Homo sapiens: one gene and its partner. The protein of the gene in region 2 interacts with the protein of the main gene of each other region in a pairwise test. Each region holds a gene or a part of one and is shown on either strand. Other genes may lie near its edges.

Region 1 (5,057 bases), on a different chromosome or scaffold from region 2:
ACAACTTCACTAAAAAGGTTTCCAAGCTTCCTCTGCTGTTTGTGTTCCTCTGACACTAGGCGTAACTATCTTGGGCATCATTTCAGTCTTGGGAATGAAGGAAGTGAACCCAGTGTGTGCTACTGAGATAAAGGAAGAAAGGGAGCTTAGAGTCCCAGTACCAGTGGTTTCCTGGGTATGGGGGAACCAGCCAGCTGGATGCCTTTGGCAAAATGCTGAGTTTGAAGCTGCCCTAGGAACCAGAGCTGCCCTGAGGGAGGCGTCACGACCCAGTGTCAGCAGCCAACCCTAACCATCCGCAACACATCCCCCAACCCTCCACTGCAGACCTGCCACATTTCTCCAAGGAGGTAACAGAGTAAAGGCATACCTTAGGCAGGAACAGGGCAGAAGAGGGTTGGAAGCACAGGAAGCAGTTTGTCTTAAGTACTAACAGCAGAAACAATAAGAATATGATCTCAAAAGCTAAAATACTCTAGAAATGCTCTCTTCTTCTAACCTCAGAAAGATTCAAATTGTACTTGACTTTCCCTAGAAGACTCACTCATCTCCTTCCTCCATGAAATGAGACTACCAGAGGAATCCTGTATTTTAAAAAAGTTTAATTTTAATCCTTCCTAGAGGAATACAGATTTGAATGAAATACATTCATTCCATAAATACATTAGCAGCAAAACCTTCCCACCAGAGTCCTCTACTCCAGCCCAGAGGTTGTGCCTTGAGCAGGAGAGCATGTTCCATCAATCCTGTCAACTTAAGGGTGGGTCTGCTTCTGAGAAACGCTGGATGTGCATGGGAGACACAATGACCAGGTGCATGGGTGACTTAACTAAGCTGGGACCCTGAAAACAGGCCCATGTGGTCACTATTCAGCCTTCTTTACCTTCCAAAAATCCTTTGGCATCTTCCATGCTTCTCTGATGAGGTTCCTCAGCACTGAGACAACTGGGAAGACCTAACTTTGCACATGCATTAAATAATGTTATTTTGAGTTGGCAATGTTTTAACACTTTTCATAAGGTAAATGAAACATAAAAGATTATTCCCTTCCTTCCCTTCCTCAGGTGAGTCCACATGTACTCATCAGGAGACAATCCAGCAGGCATTATTTGGGCTCTCTGTATCTCCAGGCCCCCTTTGTCTGAATGGCTGGATGTTTACTGGAGACAGGGAGCCATGTCTAAACCTACAAAGATCTCCACGTTACAATAACCAGGTGACTTGCTCAGGCTTCCATCAAAGCTAATTTCTTGGGCAGAGGCCAGGCATCTCTCCTCTTGTTCTCTCCATCACTGACTACTGACTGACTGCTGCTTTTTTATTTGCCCTCCAGGCACCTGCCGAAACTTTGGAAAACAAGATCTACCCTAAACTTCCAAGTGGCCAGGAGCAGTTAAGGCAGGTCCTGCTTTAAACTTACTAGCTGCCAAGTAGCACACTTATGCTGCTGTGTCCCAATCCATTCTGTGGTGAGTATAAGTCACAAGAGTCTGCATAAAACACTATCAGCAATCAGGATGGCTATGGGGCAAGGACCGTTTAGAATGTTACCAAGTCACAGGACCAGCAGGAAAATGGAATAATGGAAGAATGTGAAATAAATCTGATTTGTTTGAGCAGAAGGCAGCTTTGATTCAGGCATAAATGCATCTCCCAGATTATCATGTAAATAAAGACCTCAGAAGTTGACACTTCCCTCCCAGTCCACCACTTAAAACAGGACACATGCTCAGTTTTCCCAATCTGTTTTAAAGTGTTTTCATTAGGATACTCTTCTGTAAGTGCTTTATTCATTCCCAGTCTGTTTTGATTACTGGCTGAAAATAAATCAGGAACCATTTTATATAAAAACCATTATAGTAGATAACTGGTTATGTGTATTTTTCCATTTGCATTTTCATCCAAAATTGCTTGTTTCTTTTCCTTTTATTTATGTGCAGAAAGAGACTCATCCGCTGAATACACAGCACTGTTAATCCTACAGTCTTCTGTCCCCACAGAGTCTGCTAGATCTTCCTCTTCTGAGTCATCCTCTTCTTCCTCCTCTGGTGCTGACGAACTGGAGGTGGGCCCTTTGCAGGTTTTCAGGTGGCGGGTGAGATGGTATTTGGTTAGATAAGCCTTTGTACATTTTTCACAGACATAATCCCGTTTTCCTTCATGAGAATTGAGATGCTTCTTTAAGTGATTTGTTCTCAAGAACAGCTTATCACACTTGGGACACTTGATCTGGCGTTCTCTAAGAGGAACACAAGAAAAAACATTTGATTTGGGGTTACAAATAACAACTGAGGCAACACTTATTCTTCATAGCCGCAGGCCTTTGTCAGAGCAGCTCTATCCTTCTGAATCAGGCTTTTGCATAGGTGATATACAGAAGACTCATAAAACATGTATAGTTTAAAACAGTGTAGGCTCATTTTTCCTGTTTTAGAATACTATGTAAATTCTCAAATTCTATGTAAATTCTATATGTATTTCTTTTGTCTTGCTGCATTCTCTCAGTATGATGCTCATAAAATTCATTCAAGCTGCTGTATCAGTTGTTTGTTCCCTTCCACTGCTGTATACTATTTACAAATATACAAATACACCACAACTTATCTATGGTACTGGATTTGTCTCTAGCTAATGAATGTTTTGGTGGTTTCCAGTTTTTTATTATCACAAGCAAAAGTGCTAGAACGTTTTTAAATTTTTTTAAATTTTTATTATTATTTTTTAGAGACAGGGTCCCACCATGTTGCCCAGACTGGAGTGCAATGGCTATTCACAGGTGTGATCATCATGCACTACAGCCTTGAACTCCTGGGCTCAAGTGATCTGTCCGCCTCAGCCTCCCAAGTACCTGGGACTACAGGTGCATGCCACTGTACCTGGCATTTGAACATTTTTATACTTGTATGGTGCTCTGCAATACATGTTTCTCTAGGGCACATACCCAAGAACTATATAGCTAAATCAAAGGATATGCACATCTTCAACTTTACAAGATAATGACAAACGGTTTTCCAATGTAGTTGTTTCAATATACACATCCATCATTGACGGTTCTGGTTGTCCCATATTCTCAACTGGAAGACTCAAATTTGAAAATGTCTGCCAATTAGCCAGTACATAATGGTATCTCATTACACCGTTATTTGTATTCCCTGGATGCCACTTTTATGGAATTACCATTTTTCTGTCCTTTTCTTAGACTAGTGGTTCTCAAGTAGGGGCGACTGCCTCTATGGGGACATTTGGCAATGTCTGGAGTCCTTTCTGATTGTTATACTGGGGAGGGGTGGTATAATTAGTATCTAGTAGGAAAAGGCCAAGGATGCTGCTAACCATTCTACAATGCACAGGGCAGCCCCACAACAAAAAATTAACCCGGTCAAAATGTCAATAATGTCAAGGTTTGAGTAACCCTGGCCTAGACATTTCAGAGCTGAAAAGAACCTTAGAGATCACACAGACCAGGAATTTTTTAGCTTTTTTTTTTTTTTTGAGTAGCTGAACCCCATGTCTTTATGAAAGCCCAATATGAAACAGTTAAAGCAGGTTATTAATAAAATCCTGGAAGGAGTGAGAGGGTGCAGTCGGGCGTTCTGAAGCCTGGCTTCCTTAGCATTTCTCTCATCCTCTTCTAGCAACAGATGGCACTGAAGAACCCTTAGAATTCCCTGGAGCAGTTTTAAAACCACCAATCTAATCCAACCTCTTAATTCTGCAGATGGGAAACATCATGTGCATAAAAACTACTAAGGAACTTGCCCAAGGCCACAACAAAACCCCTACCAAAAGTCTGACTTTTCATCTTCTACTCTGATGGTTTTTAGATGTTTATTCAACACATATTTACTGTGTCTAATTATGCCAGGCACTGTTCTAGATGCTAGGGCTATAGGATGTGGGTAAACTAAGTCCCTGCTTTCATGAAGCTTACATTCTAAGTGGACAGATTATAGCATAAACAAATGTGTAACGTGGTATCATATAGCAATAAAGACTACGAAAACACACGAAGCCAGGTAAAAGTGAAGGGGTCCTATTTTAGATAAGATAGTCAAGGAAGGCCCTCCTGAGGAGATAACATTTGAGCAGAAACCTGAATGGAGGGAAGAAGACATGCAGGCATCTGGAGGGAGAAGTTTCTAAGGCAGAGGCCCTGAGACTGGATGTGCTTAGTATGCTCAAGGAGTAGCAAGGGGAGGGTCAGAGTGGCCAAAGCAGAATATGAAAAGTAAGAAAAGGTGAAGGGAGAGGTAGCCAAGTACTATTACATCATAAAGGGCCTTCTGACTGCTGTAAAAAGCTTTTAACACAAATACGATGGAAAGCCACCAGAGATGTATGAGTGGAGACAGGCACAATCTGACTTATATTTGAAATGGATTGCTCTGGCACTGCGGACAGAAAACTGTGTGTATGTGTGTTCATCTGTGTTGCGGAGTAGATGAGGAGAAACAGCAAGTAGTGGCAGGGAGATCAACTGGGAGGCTACTGAAGCCATCCATAGAAGAAAAGCTGGTGGTCTGGACAAGGTGTTAGTTGAATGAAGGAAGGAAGGAAAAACTGAGTTGAGAATTACTTCAAGGTGTTTGGCTTGACCATTGAGGTGAATAATGGTGGTGCCATTTAATGAGCTGCTCAGCACTGGAGGAAATCAAATTCATGGGGTAATACTGGGTTGAGTTTTGGACACATAAGATTTAAGTTGCCTAGCGAACATCCAGCATCAGAGCCGCTGAGTGATGGTGAGGTGTATGAGGGTGGAGACATAAATCATATGACGGTATCTAAAGCCATGAGACAAGATGACCTGGGGAGTAAACATCACTGTTCTTCTGCTCACTTCCTCTTTCTTACAGGAAGGGCAAAGCCAGGTTCTGTCACCACCCTTCCACTCTCGGGGGACACTAGGGGGGGAACTCCTCTTGCATTTGGCATTAGGGCTGTAGCTGTTTTTTTTAAGTAGATAAATAAAAAGACTGCTAATACTACTATATCCACTTTGAAATGCCCCAAAGTAAAAATACAAGCATCTGAAAATTTTACCAACGATCTCCATA
Region 2 (7,290 bases):
ATTTGTCCAAAAGCCACACAGAGTTGTGTAGAAACTGATCCTGGGAGGGAAGCTGAGAGAGTCCATGATGCGCAGGGCCAAGGTGCCTCTAGAAGTTCTCCAGCAAGCCCAGGATGCGCTTTTGCTCGTTCTCCCGGAACTCCGGGCTCCGGCCGTCCCCGATGTTCTCTGCATACTCTAGGGGGACAAAGATAGAGTCAGGAGTGGATCCCAGGCATGGCATCCACCGTGGCTGCGTCGCTTCATACCTTTCCCAGAACCCCAGCTCCCACAGAGGTGCAAGTCGCCCTAATGCCCCCACTGTAGCCAAATTCCTTGGGGTCTTGCCTTTGAGGCCTCAGTGGAAAGGTCCCAACTTACCTTTCCATGCTTGGATTCCCCTCCTAGCCACACCCTTCACTTCCGCCCTCATGTATTTATTCACTCAACACACATGGCGTGGATGCTACTAAGGTCTGAATGTTTGTGTCCCCTCCAAAACTCATGCTGAAACCTCATCCTCAACGCATCGAAGGCCTTTATGGGGTGATTAGGTTCTTACCATCTAATTATAAGATTAGATTAGGTCTAGATTAGGTCTAATCTAGGGGGATTAGACCCTTGCAAAAGGACTGCAGGGAACTCTCAAGACCCTTTGCCCTTCCCCCTTCTGCAATGTGAGGATGCAATAGGACGGCCCTCAGCAGACACCAAAGGTTGGGGCAGTGCTCTTGGACCCCCCGCCTCCAGAATTGTGAGGAAGTACATTTCTGTTCTTCATAAATTACCCAGTCTCAGGGATTTTGTTACAGCAGCACGAACAGACTAAGACAGACACCAGCTGGGCAGGCACTGCTCTGGGTGAGTGGTTCTGAGTGTGGACCCGAGCAGCAGCAGCAGCAGCAGCACTGCATGGAAACTTACTAGAAACACAAATTCTTGGGACCACCCTAGACCCACTTAACAGGAAACGGGTGGGGCCCAGTGATCTGGGATTTATTGAGTCTCCAGGTGATGCTGATGTATGCTCCAGTTTGAGAACCTTTTTTTGGGAATGGGAATAAAGCAGTGATAGAAACAGATGCAAATTTCTGCTTGTGTGGAGCCTACTTTCTAGTGAGGGTCACAAACCAAAAAGTGAACAAAATACACAGGTGGCTGTCAGCAGGGAGTATCTGCTTAAAGATCAGAAGGAGATGAGTGTGGAAAGGTCTAGGAGCGAGTGGCAGGGCAGCCAGGGCAGAGGATCTAAGGGGAGGCACTTCTTTGGTTTATCTGAGGGTCAGCGAAGAGGTCAGCGTGGCCACAGCCTGGAGCCACGGGAGGGGCCATACCCAGATGGTGTGGGTCTGTGCACCACGGTAAGGGCTGTGGCCTTTCTGTGCGGTGGGTCCTGAGCAGAAAGGAATGACGTGATTTGACTTTTGCCAGATCCCTCTCAATGCTGTGTGGGGGACACCATGGGGGAAGCAAAGGCAGGGAAAGGAGATGCGACGTGACAGTGGCCTGGATTGGGCAGGTAGCGGTGGAGGTGAGGCGACGTCTTCAGCTTCTTGATGTTTTCTGAGGGTGGCTCCAATAGGATTTACAGATAGACCGGAAATGGGGTGTGAGAAAGAGATATGGATGTTGCAATCACCAAGAAATATGACAAGAGCATTGGGGAGGCTGACAGTGAGCCCAGAATCCCCGCAAGGACTGGGGGCACAGGTGCTGGTGCCAACAACAGGGAGGGGCTGTCGGGGGGTGCAGTCCCCCGACACAAACTTCGACAGCTGGGTGTATTCGGGGAAGGGAGGGAGAGAGAATAGTCTAGAAGTACTGGAGCATGGAAGACCCCTCCTATGTCTCCAGTGGCAGGAGGGGTGTAGGAGCACCAGGTTTCAGTGAGACCAGGAAGAGAAAGGAAATATTCCTGAGGAGGGTGAGGCTCTGGGCACAGTTCTGGCAACAGATCAGCAGAGGATGCCATCAGAGAGTGTCATGGTGGGCAGGCTTGTGTTCTTGTCTCCCCTGTTGTCCCAGCACAGTGATCCTTAAGACGCCATTTCTTTTTTTTTAGTGTCCTCGTCCCCCAAAATAACATGGTCACCCTGTTTTTTTTTTTTTTTAGGAGATGGCGAGGGATGATTTGGTGACTCTGGACTTCCTGCGGTGGCTCCTAGAGCAAGTGTAGGGGATCTGGTGGGAGGGGAAGGGGGAGGATGGGGTGGTCCAACCCTTCACTGCCCTCTGACTGTCCCCTGCCCACAGCCAGAGAGGAAAAGGCAATCAAATCCTAGCTCTGACTCACAACTGTGCCCTTGGGTGGTCCCCTCTGAAAATGTTCAAATAACAAACGTCCAGGGAACATTAGTTCCCTCCCTCAGCCTCCTTTGCTCAGGCCAGTAATGGCACTGGGGAAGTCCCACACCTCCTCCGGGTCCCCTCCTGAGATGTCTTCTCTGTGAAAGCCTGCCTGGTCACCTCTCACTCCCACACCCGGCCCCAGGCCACTGCCTCCAGCACATGTGGGCCTGACTGCTAGACCATCCTCCACCCAGCCCCTCTCTCCCTAGACAGAGAGCTGCATGAAGGCAGGGGCTTTCGCCTTCCTCCCAGCTAAGCCTGGCCGAGGGCCCCCCAGCAGAGTGTCGTGCTGAAGGATCTCCTGCAGTGGGTGACTAGGATGGCTGCCTGCACTTCTGCCCCCTGGTCCCTTACTGGGGCCTGGCTTGAGAAAGAAAATGGAGAGAACTCTCTAGTAAGAGGCTTTTGCATAATAAAACACCTGCTGATCCAAACCAGACAAAGACTGGGGAGACAAAGCATGTGACCTCTCACCCCTCCCCTGTCAGCCCCACCCCTGCCAATGCTGGGGAAGTAATTTTGCTCCTGCTACCTCTTTATTTTGCCCCGTTCCTCTTTATTACTTTGGTCGTGTGCCAGAAAATGGGATGTGGGATTCAGGCATGTGCCAGCTGTGTGTCTACCCCCAGAAATCCTCTTCTGTTAGGCCCATCCATCACCTCCAACAGCAAGTGGTTGTGATGCCTCCTATTAAGGCCCCTTAGAGAGAGGGCCAGGGTGATGGAGACAGGAACTGAGCTTTGGCAGAAGGCTCTGGGGCTGTGTGTAAGTGGTATCTCTTACTCACATGTGAATGATATAGTTGCTGCCCCAGGAGAGAGAGAAATGACCATTATGGCATCTAATATCCCCGGAGGCATGGTCTGGAAGCAGGAGTCTTAATGGATTGAGCTAACACTTTGCTCTCCTAATGTCTTCTCAGACCCAGGAGAGAGGGAAGTGGAGAAACAGTCCGATGCTGTGGGGCAGTGATTTTCCAACAGTAAAGCCGGCTTCCCTGAGTTCTTTCTAGGGATGTACGAAGCAGAGGGAACCCACACCTGCATCAATCCCTTTGCCGAATCACCTGTGCCGAGGCCTCGCTTACATATGCCGACGGTACACAGAGCACCCATCCTATGCGCAAGTCTCCTGTGTCACTCCAACTGTGCTAAGAAGCAAACAGTCACATCACCCATTCTCTGGAAAGGGGATATCCGACTGGCCCACAGGCAGTGAATGGCTTAGTGTCCCCTGGAAGAGGGCCTGTCCCATACAGAGCGGAGTGGAACTAACATGTGCTGTGCACTGCTATGTGCCTGCATTTTCTAGGTTGTCTCACATGTAACCTTTGCATCAATCTCACAAGGTAAAGAACACCATCCCTACTTACCCAGGGGGAAACAGAGGCTATCAGAGAACTGAAGCAACCCGCCCAAGTCTAGGATGTAGAGGAGCCGGAATTCAAACCTTGAAATGTGTGGATAGTAAAAAAAAAAAAGGCCCCTAAAAAACCACTGGGAGGGGGCCGGTCCTCACAGCAGCATCCTGTTACCTAAGCAACAGGCTACCCTGCCTGGCCCCTAGTCTTTGGGAAAAAAAACTCTGCTCTGTGAGCATTCCAAAACAGGAATGTCTTATGGTACAGTGGCCTCGGTGGCCAGGACAGATGTGGGTGGACTGGCTGGGGTCACCCTCTCTTATGCCAAGTTACCAAATATCAGAGTTGGAAGGGTTCTCAGAAATTTATTGCAGCCCTGAGGGGGCACGTGGATGGCCAGGGTCCCACAGTGAGCCGGCCACGGAGCCAGGCCCAGAACCAGGTCCGACGACCCGGCCTAGTACTCATCCACTGGCCTAGTGCTCATCCACTGCCCGGGGAAGCTGCACCCTCAGGCACCTCAACCTCACCCTTTGCCCTTGCTCATTCTTTGTTTCTATGGCAGAGTCCTATTTAGAGCAAATCTTGGTGGTGCCAGCTACCTCTGGTTATTACAGCTGCTGCAGCAGTTTAAATATTGAACAGAGTCCTCCCAGAGGTCTTGGGAAAGAGTTCTCTCTGCTGCATGTGTGTGTGCGTGTGTGCGTGTGTGCATGTGTATGTAAGAGGAAAAGAGACTGCAGGATGAGGGGAGAGGGAGAAAAGGATGAGGGGAGAGAGGGAAGAGGCTAAGTCAGTGGAGAGTGAGAAAGACGGCATACACGTCAACTCCTTTCTCTACTTCCCCCACATTTTCAAATGCTCTTATAATAAAGGCTTTGATGGAACTCAGAAACAGGCAGCAGTGCTGAACGCATAAATATTAAAGCAAACTTTAGACAGCAGGTTTACTATTCAGACATGGAATACAAGCTGTTCTGTTTATGTTGAGAGGGAGAGGGAGGGGGCACTGGGGCTGGTGGATGGGGAAAAGTCGTCTTCCAGGGCGGAGACCTGGATGAGTATTCACAAGCCTGGTTCAGATCCATGAACCTTAAGCCTTACATGTTCACCTTTTTAAAAATGCAGGAGGAAGAGGGAGGAGAGAGGAGGAATGCCCAATATTTTCACATTGAAAACCCTTGAAGATGTACATATAACCACAAAATAGAAACTGAGAAAGGAAAATCCTTCAGGTCTAACAGAGATTCCTTGACAACAACAATGAACTTGGAAGGTTGAAAGTTGCGCTTCTCCAGAAGTAGAATATTTTGCTAGGCAGTAGGTTCTCATTTCATCAGGGATGCCATTCAAATGAAACCCACTTACAGAGAAAGACCCTTGCTCTTGCTTACAATGCCAATGGTCATGTTCTCAGAGTCCCATGGATGTTTTACACAGTTGGAAAAGCACCCACTGACAACCACCCACCCCCACAAGGCCCCGGGGAAGTCGAGCCTGTGTGCTGGTCCCTGCTTTTCCTGGTGGCATCTCAGTCCAAGCTGCTGCTAACTCCAGGCGAAAGGATTAGGTCAAGGAAGGAAGGAACTTCCATTTACTGAGTATGTAACTTGGTCCCAGGCACCCAACTGCATTTTAACTTTGGAGGCTTCCTGAGAGAGGCAATATTTATTTTAGGTGTTTTTTTCTTTGTGTTTTTTACAGAGGAGGAAACCAAGACTTAAATATGTTACCTACTAACTTGCCCAGAGTTACATGGAGATCCAGAATTTATGTTGGTCTGAGCATCTCTGTTCCTGGGTGAGCTTGGACACTAATTATAACAATAAAGACAGCTAACATGTAACAGGCACTTTCTTCTAGGTGCCAGCCACCATGCGAGCACTGTACATACAGCACTTCACCTCATTCTCACAGCAGCCTTCTGAGACAGGTTCTCCCCATCTTACAGATGCAGGAGCTATGGCTTGGAGAGGGGAAGAGCTGCCTGAGGTCAGACACTAGAAAGCGACAGAGCTTGCTTGTGAACCTGGGCAACTCACTGCAGGCTCCATGGTCTTAGCACAGTTGGTTCTCCAAGAGTGGTTCCCCCCGACCCCTGCATACCACCACCACACTACCCCGGGCAGCGCTTCCCGAGAGCCCTCTTGGGTGAACTGGGTGTGAGGCCCGGGGGCAGCAATCCTAAGGCAAATGTGACATCTTTGCTGAAAAGCTCTTGAGGTGTCCTTAAGATGCCTCTGAGCCTTGTCAAGGCCGCTGGCTACAGGGCTAACATACAGGCCTCTCTCCATGATCCTTTCCTGCCTCCAAATACCCTGTGGGACACCGTATCCATGACCAGGCGCAAGCCACGCACATGCCAACATGTCATCCAAAGATAAATCCTATCAGCCTCTGCAGCTTTAAAATCACACAAATTGGGTTACCAAGAGCCCCAAATCAATATGGAAATACATGTTTATGAGCTACTAGGAGGAGATTTTAAACCATAAAGAATACTCGCAAATCAAAGGGCCATGGGCCAAATTCTAAAAGCATTTAAGTTTCTGGCTCATTCTTTTCGCCCAGCAGTGAGAGAGTTTTGAGTCAGTAATCCTCTAAGATTTTCTCTGCAAACCAGCCACTGTGCAGTAGCCATGGCTGCTCCTGGGCATCTGTGTGGTCCTCCAACAACTTTCACCAGGAGACTAAAACATCGATAAGACTGGCCAGTGGCTTCCACTGCAACCCTTGGCACAAATATTTGTATTTCGAAGCATTCTCGGGTCACAGCTCCTACGCCACAGCCAAGGTGATGACTGCTCAACAATGCCCATGCGTAGCTGCCTGCGGAAACCCTTCCCATGCAGGCAGCCACAGAGACAGAATGCAGAATAGTGGCTGCCAGGGGCTGGGGGGAGGGAGGAACGGGCAATTCCAGTTTTGCAAGATGAAAAAAAGGCCTGTGGATAGATGGTAGTGATGGTAGTAATAGTCAAAACGATAAATTATTACTACAATAATAAAAAATAAAAAAGAAGCCATGCCTTCCGTACAGCTTCCCTGGATCTTTGGGCTCCTTTTCATGTCCAGCCGGATTAACTGTGAGTTAACTGTGCCGTCTTCATTCCCCTTGTACCTCTGCATCCCAGCACTGGCTCCATTCTGCTTTGCGCTATGGTCAGTCACCTCACTTGTGAGGGACGTATGCCTGTTGGGGACAGGGTCTCCTGAGTGTCTCACTTATCTTAGAAGCCTGCCTAGCACCCTGTGATGTCAAATTGGTGCTCTCTAAAGGTGAGTGCCCTGCATTTTTCTTCTCTCCTAAAAGCCCATAGGAGCATATGGGCCAATCAGCAGTTGGCACATTCCTTACCGCTGTGCATAGCTCCTTCTGAGTCTGGATCCAGTTTACATCACCAGAGACCCAGGTACCCCCACTAAGCTCAGTGAGTCTCAGTTTCCTTGTTACCCCACTTTCTAGGCCTGTTGTGAGGACCAGAGGTAATGACACTGTACCCCAAAGGCCTGACCCAGAGGAGGTAGGAGCTCGGTAAGTGACTACTCTACCTACCATGGTCCTGGATTTCTGGAATAGAAGAAGCCTACAGCACCACCTC

The links.
Region 1: the proteins of CTNNBL1 (region 2) and PRDM4 interact in binary tests that used the Homo sapiens proteins (3 or more experiments, as listed by UniProt).

Annotation. Positions count from the first base shown.
Region 1 is NC_000012.12:107,732,284-107,737,340, forward strand, and holds the end of PRDM4 (PR domain zinc finger protein 4), read right to left. Parts: intron 4,665-5,057; exon of another isoform or gene 4,272-4,664; intron 2,240-4,271; coding exon 1,927-2,239; 3' UTR 588-1,926; downstream 1-587. UniProt on the Homo sapiens protein: May function as a transcription factor involved in cell differentiation.
Region 2 is NC_000020.11:37,864,812-37,872,101, reverse strand, and holds part of CTNNBL1 (beta-catenin-like protein 1), read right to left. Parts: intron 178-7,290; coding exon 89-177; 3' UTR 1-88. UniProt on the Homo sapiens protein: Component of the PRP19-CDC5L complex that forms an integral part of the spliceosome and is required for activating pre-mRNA splicing.